Homo sapiens: one gene and its partners. The protein of the gene in region 6 purifies or fractionates together with the protein of the main gene of each other region. This does not show direct contact. Each region holds a gene or a part of one and is shown on either strand. Other genes may lie near its edges. The genes, in order: RHBDD1, SMAD5, DOCK5, FAM114A2, CLCC1, ACVR1 and ARV1.

Evidence for each region.
Region 1: the proteins of ACVR1 (region 6) and RHBDD1 purify together in Homo sapiens (co-immunoprecipitation; one large-scale study listed by IntAct). This does not show direct contact.
Region 2: the proteins of ACVR1 (region 6) and SMAD5 purify together in Homo sapiens (affinity purification with western blotting, with the first as the bait; 2 studies listed by BioGRID). This does not show direct contact.
Region 3: the proteins of ACVR1 (region 6) and DOCK5 purify together in Homo sapiens (co-immunoprecipitation; one large-scale study listed by IntAct). This does not show direct contact.
Region 4: the proteins of ACVR1 (region 6) and FAM114A2 purify together in Homo sapiens (co-immunoprecipitation; one large-scale study listed by IntAct). This does not show direct contact.
Region 5: the proteins of ACVR1 (region 6) and CLCC1 purify together in Homo sapiens (co-immunoprecipitation; one large-scale study listed by IntAct). This does not show direct contact.
Region 7: the proteins of ACVR1 (region 6) and ARV1 purify together in Homo sapiens (affinity purification with mass spectrometry; 3 studies listed by BioGRID and IntAct, with this or other methods). This does not show direct contact.

What each region holds. Positions count from the first base shown.
Region 1 is NC_000002.12:226,996,382-226,999,710, reverse strand, and holds the end of RHBDD1 (rhomboid-related protein 4), read right to left. Parts: 3' UTR 501-3,329; downstream 1-500. UniProt on the Homo sapiens protein: Intramembrane-cleaving serine protease that cleaves single transmembrane or multi-pass membrane proteins in the hydrophobic plane of the membrane, luminal loops and juxtamembrane regions.
Region 2 is NC_000005.10:136,135,845-136,139,344, reverse strand, and holds part of SMAD5 (mothers against decapentaplegic homolog 5), read right to left. Parts: intron 1-3,500. UniProt on the Homo sapiens protein: Transcriptional regulator that plays a role in various cellular processes including embryonic development, cell differentiation, angiogenesis and tissue homeostasis.
Region 3 is NC_000008.11:25,408,189-25,411,688, reverse strand, and holds part of DOCK5 (dedicator of cytokinesis protein 5), read right to left. Parts: intron 2,888-3,500; coding exon 2,749-2,887; intron 1,591-2,748; coding exon 1,487-1,590; intron 496-1,486; coding exon 391-495; 3' UTR 1-390. UniProt on the Homo sapiens protein: Guanine nucleotide exchange factor (GEF) for Rho and Rac. GEF proteins activate small GTPases by exchanging bound GDP for free GTP. Along with DOCK1, mediates CRK/CRKL regulation of epithelial and endothelial cell spreading and migration on type IV collagen.
Region 4 is NC_000005.10:154,004,411-154,007,910, reverse strand, and holds part of FAM114A2 (protein FAM114A2), read left to right. Parts: intron 1-3,500.
Region 5 is NC_000001.11:108,929,005-108,932,484, forward strand, and holds the end of CLCC1 (chloride channel CLIC-like protein 1 isoform 1 precursor), read right to left. Parts: 3' UTR 937-3,480; coding exon of another isoform or gene 697-936; 3' UTR 501-696; downstream 1-500. Other genes in the region: GPSM2 (G-protein-signaling modulator 2), read left to right, coding at 697-936. UniProt on the Homo sapiens protein: Anion-selective channel with Ca(2+)-dependent and voltage-independent gating. Permeable to small monovalent anions with selectivity for bromide > chloride > nitrate > fluoride.
Region 6 is NC_000002.12:157,761,331-157,764,830, forward strand, and holds part of ACVR1 (activin receptor type-1 precursor), read right to left. Parts: intron 1-3,500. UniProt on the Homo sapiens protein: Bone morphogenetic protein (BMP) type I receptor that is involved in a wide variety of biological processes, including bone, heart, cartilage, nervous, and reproductive system development and regulation.
Region 7 is NC_000001.11:230,982,094-230,985,593, forward strand, and holds part of ARV1 (protein ARV1), read left to right. Parts: intron 1-3,500. UniProt on the Homo sapiens protein: Plays a role as a mediator in the endoplasmic reticulum (ER) cholesterol and bile acid homeostasis. Participates in sterol transport out of the ER and distribution into plasma membranes.

The DNA of each region.
Region 1 (3,329 bases), about 69 Mb from region 6:
TCTCTTCCCAAGCAGCAATACCTATTATGACCAAATTTAATGATTTCTATTATATTAGCAACATTTTAGTTTTTCTAAAGTATAAATCACATATCTAAATCTGCCAATTCATCTATCATCTGATCGAGATGTTAAGATCATTCTCTCTCTGCCCCTAAATACCACAGAAGGAAAAAATGTTAGCACAAACACATCCAACGCAGACCTGTAAAAAGCACATGGCAAGATTCGGTACTACTCACAGGGACTCCTTGGTGACACTTCTTGGTCGTGTGGGAATCTTGAGCTTTGTGTACCAGGTCACAGCATTCGATGCAGTGGGACATGTCTTCAGGCTGACAAAGGCCCTGAAGTCTCTATTTCTACCAGCAAATGCTTTCCATCATTCTTTCCTTGATGTGATTGATTCAAGGGAAAAAAAAAAGACCTACAATGATATCAATAAGCACCAGGCACTAGTGTTTATGTGCGCCACTGGTGACAGTATAAATGAGCTTCTCTTTTTGTTTCAATCCACAAGTATTTATTGGTTCTGACATTCCAGACAACGTACTGCTCAAGGCACTGTGAGGAGAGACAGAGAAACAGATGGTCCCTGCCCTCATGAAGCTTACAATTTAAAGACAAAGACATTCTCTCATTGCAGCATAACCAGCAATTCCAAGTGGTATGTGGAAACTGTGTAGATGTGGTTGTGTCTGTTACAGGATTCAGATGGGGGCTGGATGAGGAGGATCTGAATGGGCCAAGAGAGAGGAAAGAGCTGTTCCATGTAAAAGCACAGCACAGAATGTCACAAGATCAGGAACACTCACAGCCTGAGCAGTGAGACTAGTTACCAGCCTCTGTGATGGATAAATGGGGCTGAGGTCCAAAGGCTGGTTGAAGCCCACTGTTGAGGCTAATGACTTTGACCTTTATCCTTTGGCAGCAGAGAGCCAATGAAAGGTATTTGAGATGCTGAGTGGCATCATGAAAGTGAATTTTGGAAGACTAAGCTGGAGTTATGTAGAATTGAGTGAGGAGGTATTGTTAAGTATTGAACAGAGCAAATAATTGAGATACTGTGACTCTCTAAGCTGAGAGTCTGTGATTCTAAAATAAAATACTAGCAGCCATGAAAAAAAAAGAGAAGAAACTTAGGGAATGACTGCAATGATTCATGGGAAGGGAAAGGAAGAAGTTATATATATATTTTTTGACTAATTGAATGCTATTCTTTACTGAATACTGAATCTCTCAAGAAAAACTAAGACTGGGAACAAGGAGGCCAGGTCTGCCAGCTACCCCATTCTCGCCCTGCCTTGCAGTGCAATTTCCAGGGTAGGGGGAGGTGGTCTTTCTCATCCCTTTAGCTTGCTTACTCCCCAGGCAGCAGAACATGTGCCAAATAGATAGACAGGATCTAGTTCTACTCAAACTAGTTATTTACTGCAGCAGGCAATTTAAAAGGATGGAGGAGGTCTGAACAATTATGTACAACTTTGGAATCACAGGCAATACATTCAGAGTCATTAAGAGGAAGCAATTTTAACTACTGCCTCCTCTTCAGAACCAAGTAAAGATTCTGCATTAAAAGGTCGCTTAAGTTGACTGACCACACCAAACTGTGGGAACCAGGGGCTTAACAGACAATCAGGGAGCTACTAATAAATAAACCAAATTAAAAAATTAGCTCTAAGTGCTTATTCCCTACTAGAGATAATTAGTCTAATACACTTGCTCACTTGCTTTTGTCTTTCTCAATCCAATTCCAGTTTGTTGGCATAACTTTAGGGATTCCTTATTGTAGAGGAAAATAAAATAAAATGGACATTCCAAACATAAGCACTTGTTACAGGCAAGTCCATTAACTAAAATAATTATAATAATTTCCAGAACATCTTTATTGTTGTGCTAAAGTAATTGGTTTACATTTATAACTAAAATGACCTTTCTCACATCACTAAGATGTTCCACTCCATCAACAGCCATGCGTATCACAATTTTACCACCCAAAATCTAATCCCGTGTCTTTGTATCTGACAAGTCAAACAGAGCAAGGAAGTACTACTAGTGGACTCAAGTGATATAAAAAAATAAAAAATAAAATACTTCCATATACAGTGACTGGACTCTTAATACAATGGAAAAAATACTTTGGTGAAACACTGACATTTAGTGAGCCCCTATCGTGAGCCTTTGGGGTTGGAAAGGGGAGACGGGGAGTGAGTGGAAAGATAACTAAGACTCAGGCCTCATTACAGAGTCATTCACAATCCATGTTCCCACGTAGAAGGCACACCTTTGTGTAGCTGTGCACAGTTAATAATAGGGGCAAGATGTGTTATAGCAGAATTACCAAATGCTATAAAAGTGGCATGAAACAAAGAAGTTACTTCTAATTGGGGTAACGGGAGTCAAACTTACAGAATTTGGGAGAGAGCAGTAACATTTAGCTTGAATATTTTAATTTAAACACATTTAAAGCTTCTAGACTCACAGGTACAATTTATATTATAAAGAAGATGTAGTTTTATATCAGTTATAAATTAACCAAAGGAGCTCAGATATTACTGGGCCAGCCAGGAGGCCAAAGAGCTCCCAAGGCTCCAGTGGTTTTCTTAGCTCATTTCCATGCAGGTGTCAAGGCCTCTTCCAGGTAAATTCAGATTGGATTTGGACACAAAACTCCATGGTCAATGTGCTCCAAATTTGCTGAATGTATCAACGGAAAAATTGATAAGACAATACCACCAAAATGTTAACCCTGGGTACCTCTAAGGGTAGGGCTACAGGTGACTTTAAAATTGTGTATGTATTTATTTGTATTTCTGTTTATATTGTGAATTTTCTCAATGGACACATAGTATTTATTTTTAAGTCTGTTTTCTTGACTATATGTTATTAAATATGTTTTCCTGATTGTAAAAGTAACACACACACATAAACACATCTTCCAAGACAGTAATATAAAATTATAAAAATGAAGAAAGCAAAATCCCATGTACTCCACTCCCAAAGATAACCCCTGCTAAGATTTGGGTATATTTCTTTCCAGATGTTTGCCTTATGCATCTGGAAGGCATATCTATTATGTGCATAATCAGAAAACTATATAAGTTGTAGATCAAAAAAGGAAGATCTTTTCCTGCTTCTCTCTTTTAAAATATCTCTGTTGACAGTAAGACATCAGTGATCTTCTGACTTTGTCCTTTTATTCATGGAACACAAGCACCAGGAAATGCCTTAAACGACTCAGACAGACAATCTGTGGATTGTAACGTGGCGGGGCCCAAGGGCGTGTTTTGGACATTTGGCTAGGACAAGTGGCTGGTACAATGGCCAAT
Region 2 (3,500 bases), on a different chromosome or scaffold from region 6:
TTGCTAAGCTTCACAAAGCTTCTATTTCAAATGAATTCATGTTGAATCAATAACCCAAAGGTCCTGTTCTTACCTAAGGTTATGGAAGTACTACATCCTGACCAACTTTCATAATAAACACACACACAAACTGACTTCAATACCCACCCCGAGACACACATACATACAGAAAAACATACAGAAAGACACACACACACACACACACACACACACACAGAGCTCACAGCTAGATTTCTAAAGTGAATTCACAGAAACAACTCTTTCACTTTGTGCTCCAACATCTCTATGACTGCTGCAATCTGAAATAAAAAGGCAAGCAAACCAATCCCCACATTTTCCTCAACACTATTGGCCAAAACAAAATCTCCTGAGCACATCATCCCATGAAAATAAATGCCCATAATGGGTCACAACCCATTGTATTCTAATTCAAACCTGTACAAAATAATTGGACATGGGGTTTTTAAATCAACAAATTCCTTAGAACCATCCCTCAAAATTCAGATTCACTAAGCTTGGCAGAAGGGCCTTACTGCCCACATTTTTAACAAGAATCTCGGACCATGCAGGAGGCTTGGGAACCAAGGTGCTCAGGATCTCCTGCAATGGAAGAAAGACACTTGCATACATACAACCTAAGGGTAACTTTTGGGGGCAGGGGGGATGTGGGGGTAAAGCTTTAAAAATCTCTTACCCTTGTGGTTCTCATTATCAATAGTAGTCACCAAGTGTCAGCAAGTAGACAACCACCACCACCACTGTCAAACCATCCCTAGATCCATGTATACAACTGCTATCAACTTTGTAAGCCACATTCACAACTGCACGCAGAGAGGAGAAGGAAACCAAAAGCATGTTTGCTCACAGCTCTTCTAGATTCAGAAATCCTATTCTTTATAAGAACATCTACAAGAAAGACAGGATACAATTACATGGGCGCCAAAATTATTTTCACAGAGAAACATTTAAATCACCACTTTCCTCAACTGTGGCTCCCGATTTCCAAAGACATAAGAAGTTCTCATAGCAGATTTCAAAGCCCTTCAGGAGCTGAACTCATGATTCCCAACACTTCTCACTGCATAATCTTCTTGCCTATTCTGTGCCCACAGAATTCTCTACTTTATTATCTCCCACAGCCAGACTTTTGTTTCCCAGTTTTTAATCACTCTTTAAGCTTCACCTGCTCCTCTAAGTCCCCTAATTAAACAGAGCCTGATCTAAATGTATCACTCACCCCCACAGAGCCTGCAAGATTTCCTACATTGCTACCAGATGTGTTTGAGTATGCTTGTACAGGCGTGTAGGCACAGGAACAGACACAGAGCTGGTCAATCTTTGTAGTGATTCCTTTAAATTATAAAATCATCAAGTGCAGATACCAAATCATGACTGTAAAATGTGTCTCTGGAGCACAAAGAGCTAACCTGTGTACACGACATATATTACAGTGCATTATGAAGATGTTCTCCAGAGAACTCATGTGCACCCAGAGTTCAAGTTCCCTGCTTAGTAGAAAAGGGAATAAACATGACTCTGGGTAACTTTTCAGCTCTAGTGTCATCATTCACTTAATTTACACTTTCATCTCCAAAGAATGAGAAATGGTCAATGAGTAAAGTAGACAGAAGATGTGACTAAGAAGAAAACAGAAGAAGACTGGCTTTTAAATATTTTTGCAGAACCCCCCTCTTCCTGGGAACACACAAACCAGAATAACTAGAACTCAAGTTGTACAGCCTACCAGATAGGATACTAGGCAGATCCTAACACATCATGAAAACAAACCTGAACAAAACAAAACTTGCCTTGAAAGCACCAGCCATATTCTGAGATCATAGTTAAATTTGAAAGATGTAAGCCTCCTCCCAAGACTCCAGTTGCTATGCTCAGAGAAAAAGTGGGAATGGGACACTAGTTTTTTTCTATTATTTTCGGTATAACAAAACAACATATATGGATATCAAAAGAAAAAATCCTGCTAAAATCTTAACAGGTCAAATCACTTTCAAACTTCTATATTGTACCAGTCTATAAAGTACATATATGCTATAGGAAGAGATGCGGGGGGGGGTCCCAAAAAATTCAAGAGCAAAACCTAGTTACAAAATGTTATGTTAATAACTAGCTTCCAAAAGTGAATTACAATTATAGTATTGCACACACAGAACTGACTTAATAAAGAACTCTTTCTTGCAAAATATCATCTCAACCAAGGTAGGATACAGTAAAAGGAGGAAGAAAAGTCACTGAAAACACCACTCTACTAGAACTGGGCCAAAAACATCCCCCCTAGCTGCCCAAGGCAAAAAAAAAAAAAAAAAAAATCAAAACTAAATAAAGAGCCCAGCCAGGCACGGTGGCTCACACCTGTAATCCCAGCACTTTGGGAGGCCATAGCGGGCAGATCACTTGAGGTCAGAAGTTCGAGACCAGCCTGGCCAACGAGGTGAAACTCCATCTCTATTAAAAATTCAAAAAATGAGCTGGACGTGGTGGTGGGTGCCTGTAATCCCAGCTACTCAGGAGGCTGAGGCAGGAGAATCGCTTGAAGCCGGGAGGCAGAATTGCAGTGAGTCAAGATCGCGTCACTGAACCCCAGCCTGGGCGACAGAGAGAGACACTCTCAAATAAATAGCCCAGAACTAGCTGATTATTTATGAAAAACCTAAGAACTCTGTAATTACCCCATCTTTCCAGGTTGGAAAACAACAAAGCTGTTAGAATATTAAGGTGGCCTATGAGATTAGTCCTAACAACAATCTAGTTTTTAACAATTCTTCCAAAAGAGTTCTAAATCTTTACCTCCCATTTAGTAAACAAACTTCTCAGATTCAGACTTCTGATTAGAGGTAAAGGGTATGTGACAACACCAATGAACTGCAAATTCCAATGACTATTATTCTATTAACTTCAGAAGTGGAAAAACAAGGTATGTTAAGAGTTCAAGACCAGCCTGGCGAACATGGTGAAACACCGTCTCTACTAAAAATACAAAAATTAGCCGGGTATGGTGGTGGGTGCCTGTAATCCCAGCTACTTGGGAGGCTGAGGCAGGAGAATTGCTTCAACCCGGGAGGCGGAGGTTGCAGTGAGCCAAGATTGCGCCACTGGACTCCAGATTGGGCGACAGAGCTAGAACCCAGTGGCGGGGGGATGCCATGGGTCAGCTTCCAAGGGTCCTTCATCATCTGTTTTGATGGGAAAGCACCCTATATTGCATCCCAGCTTCCTTGGGCCTTTTCTTTTCTCTAGAATATTCTTTTCTCTAGAATATCCAGGTATTCTTTTCTCTAGAATATCCAGACTGGTGGAGACAAGAATCATTCCTCAGGCTACTAGTATCCCTTATAAAAGGGAATCTTACTCAATGTCTTTGACCCTATGAGAAGACGGGCAAATCATAGGCTATAAGCTGCTTGTAACATTTGAAGAAATAAACTATTTGCCTTCTTTGTGGTTAGTGTACAGAGAGACAGAGAGACAGACAGACAGATACA
Region 3 (3,500 bases), on a different chromosome or scaffold from region 6:
AAGCAAAGCAAAAAATCCTTCCAAGGAGTAGATTACAGGGGTTGCTCCACCATCAATATGGAAGAACTTGTCCAGGCTTGTGCAGACCACCATGTCTCTGCCGTACAGGCTGACATTTAACAATGGTGAAGGCAATCTCTTCTTGGAAAAAATCAGAGGCTGTGACTGATTCTGGAATTCCATGTGGACTGGAAGGGAGGTGGCATGGCCTCAAAATTCTATCAAAGAGAAGCTTTTGGAAGAACATGACTGGTTTTGGGCTGGTAAACATCATCCCAGATCAGGAAATGCAGTCAGCAGGGAGCCCCATGGAATGAGGACACCGGCTGGAGGCCAGTTCTCAGGCAGCAGCTGTCTAAGGCACTCGGTGTTGCAGGGAGGGCAAGATCCTTACTGGGATCCAGGCTCGGAAGTAGGGATGCCAGACTTCCGAGCCTTTGGAGGTGGAGGGGGTGGTGCTTTGGCTTCTCTTCGGACAGGCAGTGGGGGAGCGAGCTGCAGAAGCAGAAACACAAAATTAGAAGCAGGTCTTAGCTTTCTTCCCAATTCTGCCTTCTCCTCCTATTTCTCATATTCTGCTTTAGCTTCTAATTGATCTGAGTTTATCTACACAGGCTTTGCAAAGTGAAATGGAAAACTACACTGACTTATCCTCCTTGTTTCCCATGAGCTAATCAGACACACGCGTGCGTGCGTGCGTGCGTGCGCGCGCGCGCACACACACACACACACACACACACACACACACATTTTCTCTCTCTCTCTCGCTGCCATATCCCCAACACTTGGGTTCCTGGCGTATAGACAGGAGGCACTTAAAAGTCATTTGTTAAATGACTGAAGGAAACCCATCTGAGGTCACTCCAGAATGACTGTCCTTTATTCAGAAGAAGTAAACTCTTCAAATGTGAAATAGAGGGCTGGGGGCAGGCAGTGGCTCACATCTGTAATCTCAGCACTTTGGAAGGCTGAGGTGGGTGGGGGGGATCACTTGAGGCCAGGAGTTTGAGATCAGCCTGGGCAATATGGAGAGACCCCATTTCAACAAAAGATTAAAAAATTAGCTGGGCATGGTGGCACATGCCTGTAGTCCCAGCTAATTGAGAGGCCAAGGTAGGAGAATCACTTGAGCCCAGGAGTTTGAGGCTGCAGTGAGCTATGATCGCACTATTGCACTCCAGCCTGGGTGACAGAGCCAGACCCTGCCCCCGCCCCCCTAAAAAGGTGAACTAGAACTCACGGCTTATTTCACAGGTACCCAGGACGAGGTACAGAGAACACCTGCCTCTACCTTCATCATCTGCTTGCATGTCTGTCCTTCCCATTGAAAACTTCTCTATCTCCTGTGGTTTCAGGAATGAGCCAAGAATCGACTGCAGTGACAGGTCTATGAGCAAACCTGCCCACTAAAGAGCCTGGAAAACCTGATGCTGCCTTCCCAGGAGTGGCGCTCCCTGGCCACAGTTGCCAGCTGTGATTTCCCTACCTCAGTGGAGTTCCTCTGGCTGCCTTCATAGGGCTTGCTTTTGGGGGGAGGTGGAGGTGGGACAGGAGTGGCCGCGATTCCATCTGTCTGCAACGATGGGGAGCCTAGAAATGACAGAAAGTGCAGGCGGCAGAGAGAGGCACTGAGCAAGGAAGCTCATGGAAATGTTGCTGGCACTGTAACACCTAAGCCAACCTGGTCAACCAACTGATGAAAGCCACATTCTATGGTTTCTGCGGATAGAACGAAGAAGACTTCTTACCCCACATCACACAGGTGACGCCCTCGCCAGAAGTTTCAAGAGCTCCACAAGGTGTTCTGAAGCAAAAACTTTATTTTTTTTATTTTTGTTTTTTTGAGATGGAGTCTCGCTCTGTTGCCCAGGCTGGAGTGCAGTGGCGCGATCTCAGCTCACTGCAAGCTCCGCCTCCCGGGTTCACGCCATTCTCCTGCCTCAGCCTCCCAGGTAGCTGGGACTACAGGCACCCACCATCACGCCCAGCTAATTTTTTGTATTTTTTAGTACAGATGGGGTTTCACTGTAGCCAGGATGATCTCGATCTCCTGACCTCGTGATTCACCTGCCTCGGCCTCCCAAAGTGCTGGGATTACAGGCGTGAGCTACCGTGCCTGGCCAAAACTTTTTTTGTTCAGGGTTTTAGTATTAAGCTGAAGATGACAACATTTTCTGGAATGTATGGTATTATTCTGTTCTCTGATATAGCCCAAGTGCTTAGGAAAATATCCACTTCCTCCAGGAAACTGTAACTGATTATCTCTAACTCTTGGTTGACAATTGTCTCCCATCTGGCTCGATAGATTTATCCCTCTACCATGCCTCTGGACTATGGGTACTTTGCAATTCTTCTCAAGTGTTGTGCACTGCTGGTTCCCCAAGCCAGACTATAAGCAGTAGATGGAATGGGTCTATTTCTTGTCCCTGTTCAGGTCTACCTAACTAATGGTTAGCTTGTAAGTTACTTGTTATCTGTCTAGTCCTAGTGCAGATCTGCCTCATTTATACCTTCACAATTATAAAACTGACACTAATGCCCTTTGGATCACTATCCAGAAAAGTTTAATGAGTCCTAGTGGCCTCCTTGCCAAACTCCAGTCTAACTGTATAATACACGAACACGAAATTGAACCAGTTTTACAATGGTCTTACATACATTCTGGCTGGTTTAGTTACAAACTGCCCAGATGCATAAACATACTCCATTCCCTAGTAAAAAGACTATAAGGAATACAGGAAAACTTACTTAGGGTCCTGGTGGCTTTGGGAGTGAGTGGAGGTGGGCTCAAGGGTGTTGACTGAGGAGGTGAAGAACCGTGAAATGGTGATAGCCGATTATCCATCAACTGGAGACTCTTTGGCCTTTGTGCTTTTCTGGTTGGGCTCTAGGACCAGAGAGAAAAAGCAAAACATTTTCACGGTGAGGAAGGCTGAGCTCAACAATGCTCTCAACAGCCTTGTCTTCTGAGAAGACACTTGGAAAAGGACTTAACTGAAGGAGCGATTTTTAAGCATTGTCATATGATGGGCAACACCGAACAGGCACTGACTAGAACCACTGAACCACAGATTATTTTCTGAATGGCCACAGACTTGATTCTTCTGATCACAGTTGGGCTGTGTCATTTATGTTGGAAATAAGCCACCCTGATTCTCAGGAAAAGGTGGTCTTGCCACATTTAACAACTTGATATGGAAGGAAAAGTACCTTTTAAAAAAATTAAAGAAGAGAAATGACAATGTTTGGATTGACTCAGGGGACAGAGTGGCAAGAACGACAGCTCTAAGCATCAACCCACATGTTTACATTGTGGGTACAAGATCTTCACCAATGTTGATTTATAGACTCGAACTTCTCATGAGGTATGTGCTTTCCTTACCACAATCTGCGACCTGACACTAACCCAGGCTGCTGAGTCCTGAAACAAGCCATAGCCCAGCTTCAATCTGGGAGGGGATGGTGATATGCCTGGGTACAGGGGAGAGGGGGGCAAGCCT
Region 4 (3,500 bases), on a different chromosome or scaffold from region 6:
ATTTTTTTCTATCTGTGAGGTGAGTTGTAATAATGTAGAGTTCCTGTGAGGTTTAAATGTGTTCACACACATAGCTCTTACAAAGGGCCTGGCTCATAGTAAATAAATGCTCACTGTTGATGGCTCCACAGAAGACAGCCCGATGTCCTCTACATGTAGCTGTTCAATAAATATACATATGTGTTCAATAAACCTTTATTATGCTTAGTAATTTGCTAGGTGCTAGGGAAATAATCATGAAAAAGACATAGTTTACATGCTTAATGAGAGATCACATTAATACGTATTTTTGTAAGGCCAGTAACTCCTTATCTGTCTGGCAGTTCTCGCCATTCTCTGAAAGCAATCTTCAGATTGTTTAAATTTTAGGCATTGAGACTTAAGATGTAGATTGGTTAAGGATCAAGGCCTTAACCATTGGCCCTCAAAAGATTTATATGGCAGGCTGTGATGTAGGGGAAAGAGCACTGAATTAGGAGTCCGGGAATATGATTCTGTGATTCTGATTCTTGTTCTAATACTCACATGTGGTGTGGCCTGGGGCAAATTCATTTTCTTCTGTGGGCCTCATTATTTTTCTGTTGGAAATAAATAAGCTTTTGGAGAAGCCAAGTTCAAAGGTACCTATTGAGATCTGCAGATCTCAACAAGTGGGAAGTTCCAGACTGAAATGTGGTCGTGGATGACATTAATTATTTTGGGAAAGGATAATAAATTACCTTGAGTTGGCACAATAGTTCATGATGATTTCACTTAATATATTTATTACAAGAGAGGTCACTTTGGGTATGCTCTATGCCTACTAAAATATCTCCTGGCCAGGCGCGGTGGCTCACGCCTGTAATCCCAGCACTTTGGGAGGCCAAGGTGGGTAGATCATGAAGTCAGGAGTTCAAGACCAACCTGGCCAAGATGGTGAAACTCCGTCTGTATTAAAACTACAAAAATTAGTCAGGCGCAGTGGCAGGTGCCTGTAATCCCAGCTACTCGGGAGGCTGAGGCAGGAGAATAGCTTGAACCAGTGTGGCAGAGGTTGCAGTGAGCTGAGATCATGCCACTGCACTCCAGCTTGGGCGACAGAGTGAGACTCCATCTCAAAAAAAAAAAAAAAAAATCTCCTTTGGGTATATTAAATTTATGGTATCCGTTTTTTCTTTTATGTGGTCTATCACTCTCCATTTTTCTTTTTTAATCTCTGATAAATTAATCCTTCATTTTTTTACTCAATTTGTCTCTTCAAAGATATTGCAAAGAATTTAACATATTGTTTGTATTATTAGTCAACTGTTATGATTCTTTCCAGCCTCATCTCTCAGTGTTCTCTTCTGTAAACCTCACTACTCCAACCTAATTTTCTGTCACACTCCTCATCCTCTATATTCTTCCTTACTGGCCTTTATTCTGTTTCTCAGGTGTACCAAGCTGATTTCCCTGTGCTTACAACTCTCTTTGCCTAACTATTTGTATGGCCAATTCCTTCAGATTTCAGCTGAAACATAACTTTTCAGAGACCCTTCCTGACCACCCAAACTCAAGCCACCTTCTACCCATACCCACCGTTACTCCATTTTATTTTCTTTATGTATGTTTTTGTTTGTTTGCTTGCTAATTGCCTTATTAGGAGAGAGAAGAGCAGACTCCTAGTTTGTATTATTCACCATTGAATCCCCAGCACTGGCACAGTGTTAGTATATATTTGCAATAAATGAATGAGTAAAATGCCAGTATCCTATATTTTGGTCTTGCTAGATATCTCACTGTTTGCCTACACACTTTGCATTTTTCTGTTTCCAAGCCTTTATATAGTTCATGCTGTTTGGTGTTTTGAATTTGAGAGGTTAATGCTTAAGTAATGGGAAGGTATAGATCAGAGCTAGATTGTTCCTGAATGTTTTTGTGGGAGGATATAGGGAAAGAACCCTACAGTGAAATTCTGGGAACACAGGTCTGCTTTAGCTCATTCGGGTAGCCTTGGGTGTAGCCCCACTTGCTGATCCTTCAAGGCCTAACTCCAGTACTGTATGTGTAATAAAACCTGTTTTCTCAGTTAGAATGACTCTCAAAGTCTTCTCTGGATTCCTATTACCTCATGACAGCTTTGAACACATTCTGTGTATGTAAAGTTAATAAACTAGGTGGTAATAAACAGTTTCTGAGAAACCAGGACTCTTTCACTTGCAAATGACAGAAACTCAAGTTAAGAAACTTAAAAAATAACAGAAACTAATTTAAAAGAGGGGAATTCAGTAGCTCAAGAAAATAGAAAATCAAGGAGCAGAACTGGCTTCAGGCATGGCTCTATTCAGGAACCTATCTCTATCCCTATCTGTGTCTTTCGGCTTGCTTCCTTTTTGTTTTGGCTTCATTCTTAGGGAAGCTTTTCCATATGGTGGTAAAATGACCATTGGCAGCTTCAGGGTGGGTGACTTTTTTCCATTTCGGTAACTCTTACTGAAAGAACACTTCTTTTTGCTGATAATTTTACCAGATGTCCTGAGACTGATGTCCATTGATCTGGCTTGGGTTACTTTTTAATCTATGCACCACTTACTCTGTGGACAGGGGTATTAGTATTCTCAGTAGCTAAATCTGAATGGTTTGCCAACTTTTGGAGCCAAAAGATGGAAGCAGCTGCACCCAGGTCACATGAACTAAGGAGAATCTAGAACCTGCCACCAAAAGAAAGGAGATATGGGTGCTGGTCATATCCATATCCAAAACAGTAGATGTTCTTCACAGTGTGCTGGACACTGGGTGTGCAAAGCCAAATAAAACACTCTCTAGCTATCCTATAATACATAGTTTAGTTAGGAAACAGATAATTCTACTATATTTGGTTAAGTTCTGAATTTAAGTTACCTGAAAGAGATGATGTCTGGGTAGAGGATTGAAAGAACAAGTACAGTAGAGGTCATTCTTACCAGAAGATAAAGTGGAAAATGATAAGAGATGAGGCTGGAAAAGTAGGTAGGGTCTAGGTCATGGAGACCTGTTACATCATGTAAAGAGCATGATCTAGTTGATGAGGAGCCATTGAAGGAAAGAGGAATGGTCAGCCCTGGGCTTAAGACAGATCACTGGTAGCATTTTGGAAGATAGATTTAAGATAAACAGATCAGAAGCAGAGAGACCAGTCATGAAGTGGATCTGAACTCAAGTAGTGGTAATAGGGAGGAGGAAGACGGGAAGAGGATGATGAGGGGCTTGGATAAAATCAGACCATCTTGGTGATTGGTTGGAGAGGAAAAAAATCTAAGATGGCCCCTATATTTTGGCTCAGGTAACTGGTACCTGGTGGCACCTCTAAAACTTTGGGAAATAAAAGAGGTTGAAAAATTTGGGGTAAGAAGAGAAAGACAATGAGTTCAAAGTTTTTATTTGTTGTATGTGTGATGCCTGCAGAGTATTTTGTCTAGCAGACATTTGGAATAAGTTTTCAGGAGAGGTCAGGTCTAGAAATAAGGATCTAAGAGTCAACAGCAGGTTGAGGATAGTTGAAA
Region 5 (3,480 bases), on a different chromosome or scaffold from region 6:
AAATTCATTCTGGGCTATTTCTTAACAGATTTAACAGCCTAAGACAGAGGCAGGCAAACTTTTTCTGTAAAAGGCCAGATAGAAAATATTTTAGGCTTTGCCGCCCATATGGTATCTATTGCAACTGCCCAACTCTGCCATTTAGTAGGGAAGCAGCCATATAGATAGTATATAAACATATGTATTGATGGGAAAATGAAAATGACTTCATTTACAGAAGCCGGCACTGGGTTACAGTTTGCTGTCCCCTAGCCTAAGACGTGATTTTTTTAAGGTAGTTCCTCATGGGGTTTGTACATATTTCTAAAGATTTGTTAAGTTACACAGTTGATGCCTGTTAGATTATAACCTTGAACTGTCATACTTAGATACAGTTGACCTTGTCTTTTATCCTTGTGACCAATTATAATTAAAACAGTATGACTTAACATAATGCACGTACTAAACCAATGAAGCAGCTATACCTATATAAGCCATTTTAAAGGAAAAATTTTATGCAGTTTCAGGTTTAAAGATTATTTCTTTCAGAAATCAGGCTGGGAACTAAAGAGAACAATATAAAAACAAAGATTAATTTCTGAGAAGCCCCAAATAAAAGTTTACAACTGCGTTTTCTTGTTGTGACTGAGAGATTTAACATAGCTTGGTGCTTTCTTTCCCACAGTATGTCTTTTAATCTCTCTCATAAACTTCTAGGGATCCAGATTAGATGATCAAAGATGTGCTCCACCACCTGCTACCACAAAGGGTCCGACAGTACCAGATGAAGACTTTTTCAGCCTTATTTTACGGTCCCAGGGAAAGAGAATGGATGAACAGAGAGTTCTTTTACAAAGAGATCAAAACAGAGACACTGACTTTGGGCTAAAGGACTTTTTGCAAAATAATGCTTTGTTGGAGTTTAAAAATTCAGGGAAAAAATCGGCAGACCATTAGTTACTATGGATTTATTTTTTTTCCTTTCAAACACGGTAAGGAAACAATCTATTACTTTTTTCCTTAAAAGGAGAATTTATAGCACTGTAATACAGCTTAAAATATTTTTAGAATGATGTAAATAGTTAACCTTCAGTAGTCTATTAAGGCATTAATACTTCTCTGGACATGCGCGTTTGAGGGTGGAGGGGTCCTGTAAGGTGCTTCATCGTCTGTGATTACTGCTTGGGATGTGTTCTTTGGCAGCTTGTGAGATTACTTTACCTAGTGTTTATAAAGTAGGAAGTTAAGTGAATCATAGATTAGAATTTAATACTCTTATGGAAATAATTTTTTAACATCTTAATTGACAATGGCGTTTTTTTATACATAACCATGGATGTAGTGGGAAACAATGTTGTTTGGTAAAAATAATGTACTTGATCAATGTAAAAAAGTATATAAAATAGTCTTACTAAAAATCTAGGTTTTTTTTTCCTCCATGAAAATCTGTTTTTTTAGGCCAAAGTCAGTATAAAAGAAACTCTACTTCTTGGGCTGGGCATGGTGGCTCATTCCTGTAATCCCAGCACATTGGGAGGCTGAGGCAGGAGGATCGCTTGAGGCTAGGAGTTCAAGACCAACCTGGGCAACATAGACCCCCGTGTCTATGAAAAATAAATCAGCAGCCAGGCGCAGTGGCTCACACCTGTAATCCCAGCACTTTGGGAGGCCGAAGCGGGCGGATCACTTGAGGTCGGGAGTTTGAGACCAGCCTGGCCAACATAGTGAAACCCTGTCTCTACTAAAAATACAAAAATTAGCTGGGCATGGTGGCATGCGCCTGTAGTTTCAGCTACTTGGGAGGCTGAGGCAGGAGAATCACTTGAACCCCTGGGAGGCAGAGATTGCAGTGAGCTGAGACCAAGCCACTGGACTCCAGCCTGAGTGACAGAGCAAGACTCTGTCTCAAAAAAAAAAAAAACAGCAAGCATGCTGGCACACACCTGTAGTCCCAACTGCTTAAGAGGCTGAGGCAGGAGGACCACTTGAGCCCAGGAGGTGGAGGCTGCACTGAGCTATGATCGTGCCACTGCACTCCAGCCTGGGTGACAGAGCAAGACCCTGTCTCTAGAAAACAAGTATCTTTTGTGTGTTTTGGGCTGTTTAAAAAAATTATTTAAAATGGTCTCTTCTGTTCCATAATACTGCTGTAAAACAAACTTTTCTAAGTTCTAATATAAAAACAAAAAACAAAACCCATGTGGTTAGGTCAAGAACCTAGGACACATAAACAAACAGAAAACAGATGAAAACTCACAAAAATTAAATATGAAAGAAAGATGTCAGCTAGAACCTTAGTTGTCATTAAGCTTTGTCTTCCTTATCCCAGATATTGAAGGCAGTTTACAAGGGGATGATAACAAAGTAACTAACTAACTGTAGCAAAAGACAAGTATGGGACAGACTGGGACCTGGAGTAACACTGGATCACAGACTGCAAAGGCCCACGCTTGGAACAAGTTGCCAACTTGTTTCACTCTGCTTGCTTCAGACTGTGCACAGCTGGGATGGGATCTGGGGATGTGGACCCCTATTCTTTCAAAAAGTCATTCAGGTGATTTGGATGGGCAAATAGAACTATTTCTCTAATGGCCAATGTTTTTTAAGAGTCATAACCTGGAATTAATTACATTAAGTGCTCAGCTAAAAAAAAAAAAAAAGTTCTAAATTACAACCTGGATTACATTATGTTTCATGTATACTATAAGGTATGATGTCCTGGATAGCATTTTAAAAACTCAGGTAAGTTTCATGGGGTTCTTATAAGAAAATTCAGTTAAGACAATATACCAAACCACAACGTAAAAAGTTTGTGTATACAAACTTTTTGTATTATTTGTACACAAAGTACAAATTTGTATTTGTACACAAAGTACAAACTTTGTGTATTATTTTGTGTATACAATAGTTCTTACAGCCTGTAAACATTCAACATTATTCCATTTAAACATTGTTTTTAACAGCTGTCTACCCTGTTCTGATTTTCCTAAAAGCTTCACACTATATAGGCTGGGCACAATGGCTCATGCCTGTAATCCCAGCACTTTGGGAGGCCGACAAGGGCGGGTCACTTGAGGTCAGGAGTTCGAGACCAGCCTGACCAACATGGTGAAACCCCATCTCTACTAAAAAATACAAAAATTAGCCAGGCATGGTGATGCACATCTGTAATCCTAGCTACTCGGGAGACTGAGGCAGGAGAATCTCTTGAACCTGGGAGGTGGAGGTTGCAGTGAGCCGAGATTGTACCACCTCACTCCAGCCTGGGTGACAGAGCAAAACTCTCAAAAAAAAGTAAAATTTCAAAAAAGCTTCACAATATAAACCTTAATTTTAATGACATATTGGCTAGTCAATAAACAAGTCTTATCTCATCTCATCTCTTTTCTGATAACAAACACCCGATGTGTTCAATTTGCTTTCATATTTAAGTCTTTCCTGAATTGCTGTCATCATTCAACAACAGTTGCATGTCGCCTTGCTAGCTGTCAAAGTAGACTT
Region 6 (3,500 bases):
GTAAATTGTAGACCAATGCACTAAACCAATGTGGCCTGTGTTTGAGGTCCACAGGAAAACAGGCTCACATGTTAAATGTGAGCCTCTAAGTGGCTTAACAAGAAGCAAATTAAGCTCTCAAGCTCCACCACTGCTCTCACTAGTCTCCAAACACAAATTTCCAACAGTGTGAGATAGAGCATTTAAAGTAATTTATCACTACATAAAGGGCAGATTGCTATAAGCACTGCTTTATTCCTAAAGGAAGAGCTGCTTATCTGAGCAGTAATGCTGACCAAACCCACAGGCCTTTTCTCTAGAATCATGGAAACAGACAGCATTTAACTGGACCTCAATTGAAAGCACAACTCTCAGGTTAAATGGCTTTCAAATGCTTTCTTAAACCATGACTCATTCCAGAATTCCTCAGTCAATTAGGGAGACAGGCTTTCTTCACTGGCCAGTGGGGAGACACATACATGCATGCTTTATTTGTGGATGATTTTATGTTACTGATGCATATGCAGACTGACTGAAAATGATTCCTATAACATTTGTTGTAATGAAAAGTGCCAAATTGGAGCAAGCAGTCCCTGTAAACCACTGCAATGCAAATATCCCTTGTTGATCTCTCAAGCCATCTACAGAGAATGCTTCACCTTCCACTCCACGGCTTTGAATGTGGGGGATGACAATTTCATATAACATCAGGGAGCTAGCACACCTTATCTCATCCTTAATAATTAGCAAAGATACTGGCAACTGCATTACACTAAAACAGACAGGTTCCTCTTTCACCTATTTTTATAATCAACCCCAAGATTCTATGGACACTGTGAACATTTCCCAAATCCTATGCAATAGTCCCCCCACTTATCCTTCAGTTACCCGCAGTCAACTACAGTCCAAAAATAGGTAAGTACAGTACAATTAAGTATTTTGAGAGAGATACCATATTCACATAAATTTTATTATAGCATACTGCTATCATTGTTCCATTTTAGTGTTACTAATGTTCATCTTTTACTGTAGCTAATCTATAAATTAAACTATAATAGGTATGTAATAGGAAAAAACATAGTATATATAGAATCTGGTACTATCCTGAGTTTCAGGAATCCACTGGGAGTATTGGAAGGTATTTCTCAGGGAAAAGAGGGGACTACTGTATGCCCCTCCACCATTTGCAGAACCAAACAGTCAAAATATCAGAATATTTAAAAGGTGCAGGTTAAATAGAACATGGAGATATTCTGAAGATGGGAGAAGCTTCAAAGAACTTGTGGACATATTTTAAAGCCACCACTGCTAGGATCTCCAGGTGAGGCATAATTCCCCATCCCTTGAGTGTATGCTGGACTATTGAATAGACTATGGCATAAGTGACAGTGGGTATCTTCACAGTTAGGATATAACAGATGTTATAAAATTATAAAAGGCTTCCTGTTTGTCCCTCTCAGCTCACCATGCACCATGTTATAAAGACACTCAAGCAACCCTGTGGAGAGGTCCCCCTGCAAGGAGCTGAGACCTGCCGCCAATCATGGCTTTAAGTGTGTCCTCACAGAGTTGGAAACTCCAGCTCTGGTTGAGCGTTCAGATGATTGCAACCTCCACGAGACCCTGAGCCAGAACCACACCGCTAAGTCATTCCAAGATTCCTGACTCTCAAGAGACTGTGTGAGATAACAAATCTGTGTTGTTTTAAGATGCTAAATTTTACAGGTGATTTGTTCTTAGTAATAAGTAATTTTTACACTAAAGATGACAAAACAACCGGATGCAATTTGTAAACTTTGGCTGAGTTCCTCTTTGAAAAAACTGAAAACATCTGAAAATGAATATAAAATGATACTAGAGAATTATCAATAATCTGTAGATATGAAAAACTGATTATGAAGAAGATGCATTTTTAAGTATTTTCAAGGGATGAATTTTGAAGTATTGAGGGGTAAAGTGTTGTGATGCCTGTAACACTTTATTTTCAAATGGATTGGCAAAAATATACACATGGTCACAGATTGATAAAGCAAACATCACAAAGTTTTAACAATTATTGAATCTAGGTGTTCGGGATTTAAGTGATCATTATAACATTTGAATTTTTTAATAATAAAAAGAAAAACAGACGAGGCACAGTGGCTCACATCTGTAATCTCAACATTTTGGGAGGCCGAGATGGGATTGTCACTTGAGCTCAGGTGTTCAAGATCAGCCTGAGCAACATAGTGAGACCTCATTTCTACTAAGAACAAAAAAAAGTTAGCCAGGTGTGGTGGTACACACCTGTAGTCCCAGCTGTTTTGGAACGCTGAGGCAGGAAGATTGCTTAAGCCCAGTAGATCGAGGCTGCAGTGACCTATGATCAGCCTGGGCAACAGAATAAGATCCTCTCTCAATCAATTAATCAATATAATACTGATCTTTTTGCAGGATTAATCATAGAACACTATTTCTAATACATGATCCTTAATTGCTAGGTATATACTGGTAAGTTATATACAAATTATGGTCTTATAAGAGTTGTTTCCTGCACTGCATTGTTTTACCATATCCTGAATAATAACGCCTTAACAGATTTTTATACAAACCCATATATCTAATTGGAAGGTTACAAGCCAAAAGAAATGTAGTTGAAGAATTAATTAGCTGGACTTACTGCAAAGTTCCCCTCAACTCCTTCCCTACCAAGTCCCATAAACCAAAACCAAGAGCCACCTCAATTTGTCCACCCTCCCCAGACCACTGGATTATAACAGAAGCTACAACTTGAATCCTTATTGTTTACCAGACATTTATAATACTTCTGGGCCTTACCAGAATCCGGTGAGGTGGGCTTATTTTTTAGTTACATGAGTAATATATGATCACACTATATATATATTTTTTTTTAGACGAAGTCTCGCTCTGTCGCCCAGGCTGGAGTGCAATAGCGCGACCTCGGCTCACTGCAACCTCCGCCTCCTGGGTTCAAGCAATTCTGCTGCCTCAGCCTCCCCAGTAGCTGAGATTCCAGACGCACGCTACCACGCCCGGCTATTATTATTATTTTTCTTTTTTTTTTTTTTTTGTATTTTTAGTAGAGATGGGGTTTCATCACGTTCGCCAGGCTCATCTTGAACTCCTGACCTCAAGTGATCCTTCCGCCTCGGCCTCCCAAAGTGCTGGGATTACAAGCGTGAGCCACCGCGCCCGGCCACGATCACACTGTTATGCAAGTTTCTAACAACGCAGAAGTACAGGGCACAGCGTCAAGCCCTGGAGTTCCTCTTGGCTAACTCCCAACCCCATCCGCCTTCGCCCTCACTGTCCCTGTCTCACTGAGTGAAAGCAGTGTCAGCACTTGGGCCAGGTAAATAGATAAATAGACTTGCACAAAAATACAGGGTAATTGAGAAAGCCAGAATTTAAACCCAAATCGCCCTGGCTCTAAGAGCCATGGAATAAGCCATAAAAGTCCTCTACACCACAACTAAAAATGCCTGCAAAAAACTTTAGGGCCATGCTCTTTCAATGCTTAT
Region 7 (3,500 bases), on a different chromosome or scaffold from region 6:
AGACATTCTCTCTGTTTTATTCATTAATGTAGCTGTATCACCCAGAACAGCGACTGACATTTAGTAGCCACTCAGTAAATGTCTGTTGAATAAATGTATCACTTCCAGGTTTTTAGATTAGCATATGCTTGGCCATCCAGGTAGGAGGAAGAGAACAAGATCTTATATGTGGTCTAAACTTAATAACTTTTGGACTGGTCCAATTAAATGGTCAGTTTGGAAGATGATAACCACATAACTGAATATGGTCTGAAGAAAAGCTGGTATTTGTATATGCATTTTAGTTAGTAGTCTTCAATAATACAAAAAATCTCTTTTTGTTGGCATTAAGCTAACAAAATCCCTTTGCTAAACAGCAGGTGTTTATTTTGTTTATGGAAAGGCAAAATAATTATTGGATAGCTGTTTAGGTCAACATTCACTTACCCCCTCCCCTTTGTTCCCTAACATGATACTCTTTCTCCCAAGAGATGGACTTTGGAGTTATATTTGGAATATTGAATGGTGGCACAGTACTTTATGGATTCGTTATTGTCCACAGTCATTCCATAATGAGACAGAGTGTCTAATGGCCTTGTCGCTATCATGCTAATGCATACTAAACTTTAGGCCATAATAGCACGACTCAGGGAAAATCATTTTGTTGATGCCAGACTAAAAAATTAAACCATGAAGCAATGAATTATTTTAAAGGCCCTCCAACCTCTGAGATACAAAAAGTAAGAAGTTTTTAAACATTAGACCATGTGTTGTGACATAATCTCCAGAGTTTCTAAGTGGTTACTCATATATACTTTGGTCTCTTCCCTGCCGAACTTGGAGTCAGCAAGATCCTCAGCCTGATCGCCCACGTGTATTTTTCATCCCAATCTCCTTTCCTTTTGCTCTGCTTGTTTCTTCACTGCCATTCCTCCCAGCTTGCCTTTCTGTGTTTCTCTGACTTTCCTCTAATATATCATGTGTCCCTTGCTTTTAACCAATCCTGCTGCTTCAGCTCTTCACAATTTATTATAAGTACGCTTAAAGATACAGTACTTTCGGCCTAGCACGGTGGCTCATGCCTGTAATCCCAGTACTTTGGGAGGCCAAGGCAGGCGGAGCACGAGGTCAGGAGTTCAAGACCAGCCTGACCAACACGGTGAAACCCCATCTCTCTAAAAATACAAAAATTAGCCAGGCGTGGTGGCGCACTCTTGTAATCCCAGCTACTCGGGAGGCTGAGGCAGGAGAATCTCTTGAACCCGGGAGGCAGAGGTTGCAGTGAAGCTGAGATTGCGCCACTGCACTCCAGCCTGGATGACAGAGTGAGACTCCGTCTCAAAAAAAAAAAAAAAAAGTACTTTTTATTTGCTATAGGGCTTGGCTTATTTTAAGTGCACAGATATTTAACAAATTCATTATTATGTTAACAAAACAAAACTCCTATAAGAGTCTCCTAAGTTTCCATTTCCTTCAGCACTACAGCATTCGGCTCCCACCCTTGGGATCCTAGATGCAAAGATGAATAAGACACAGCCCTACCCTTGAGGAGCTTAAAGACTTAAAGAAGGGAAGGGAATGCTCCTAGAGATGACAGGAAGGAAACAGCAGGAATATTTATGAAAAAAATTGGTTTGGCCGATTTATATTCTAAAAGAGATCTGATTCATTAGGCATTGGAGAACACAGCAGGACAGAGGAAGTCATATCCATGTTTAGACAGGTGATGGAAGCAGCCTGAATTCCCAGAGTATGCTTGGTCCTTGCGTTGTAGGGATTCTTTAGAGGAAGATTTTTCTCTTTTCAGGATACTTGCCTATAAAGTAGTAAATGAAACAATTTTGCCAAAATAAGAAACATAGGAAACATAGTTGCTAAATCTGGGCAGGCGTGATGATTCACACCTATAATCCCAGCACTGTGGGAGGCTAAATCGCAGATCACTTGAGGTCAGTAGTTCAAGACCAGCCTGGGCAACATGGTGAGACCACCCCCTGTCCCCCACCCATCTATACTAAACTACAAAAATCAGCTGGGCATGGTGGCACGCGCCTGTAGCCCCAACTACTCAGGAGGTTGAGGTGGGAGGATCACTTGAGCCAGGGAAGCAGAGGCTGTAGTGGGACAAGATCCTGCCACTGCACTCCAGGCCTAGGCGACAGAGTGAGACCTTGTCTCAAAAAGGAAAGAAAAGAAAAGAAACATATATACTAAATTGAATAAATACAACTCCCAGTGGTCTGCTTTGGGATGTCTACATTTGTTTGTTTCGTGTGTGTGTGTGTGTGTGCGTGTGTGTGTGTGTGTGTGTGTGTGTGTGTGTGTGTGTAGTTTTCCTCTTCACATTCAAGGTGAAGGCAGAGGGAAAGGAAGTTGCAAGCAGCACTTAAGGGAAAAGCAAATAATAGAGGGAGAACAAGGAAAGTGAGGTGTAAACTTGTTGTGCCCAGGGGTGTTAGAGAGAACGCCACACTTTGAGACGAATTAAGAGTCCTTTATTAAGCCGGCGGCCAAAGAGACAACTAATGCTCAAAATTCTCTCGGAAGGGGCTTGATTAACTTTTATATCTAGGTTTAGGAAGGGGAGGGGGACTCAAATGCAATAATTCTACAGAAGTAAAAACATGCAAGAATCAAAAGAAGCAAAATGGTTACAGAGAGATAAACAACTTAAAAGACAAATGGTTACAAGAAGAGCAACGGTACCAGGTGCAAGGTTCTAAATCCTTCATTATAATTAGATATAGGGTCTATGCCGGACACGAACTCAAGGTTTTATGTTGTTATCTCTTTGAGAAAAATCCTGGGAACTTCATACATTGTTGGTGTTAGTACCTTATCAGTTAATTGGGCTTTTTTGAAATGCTGATTATCTGTTTACCCAGGCCAACTCCTTACGGAAGGGGGTTGGGTAATGAGCCCTTAGTGTCTTGTAAATTAAGAGGTCAATTGGAGTTTGTCCGGCCTTCCCAGCTAGAGAGAGTCTTACTTACATGAGAAGCAAAGCTAGGTGATTAAAGAGACAAGCAGGACAAAATTCAAAGTAACGAGTTAGAGTAAAAACAAGGTTAGGCGTTTCAAACTGACTGAGAGGGAACCAGCAAACTTTAATGACTTCTCAGCATTTATAAAACATGCCGAATGCTAAGAAGGGAAATGGGCAAAGCACACAGCATATCACATACTACCAGAAGCTGCCTCCTCTGTTTGATTTCATATCACCCTGTGCTTATCCCATTGTAGCCGTTGGATGTTACATAGTCTGATGACTGTGGTCATGAGACCATATCATAGAGGCATGTTTGTCTTCTGCTTCTAAACTGTTAGATCCTTGAGGATAGAAACTGTGGCTGAAGGTGAATATCTAGCACCTTGGAAGTTCCTGGTCCATAAAATGGCCAAGAAAAGAGAACGATTGTTATACATGTAATAGCCACTCCAAAGACATTTGTCAAACAAATGAATGCAAAAGGAATAACAGCTGCTGTGTCTCCTGGTGCTGGTTTCTGCCTACCTCCTTC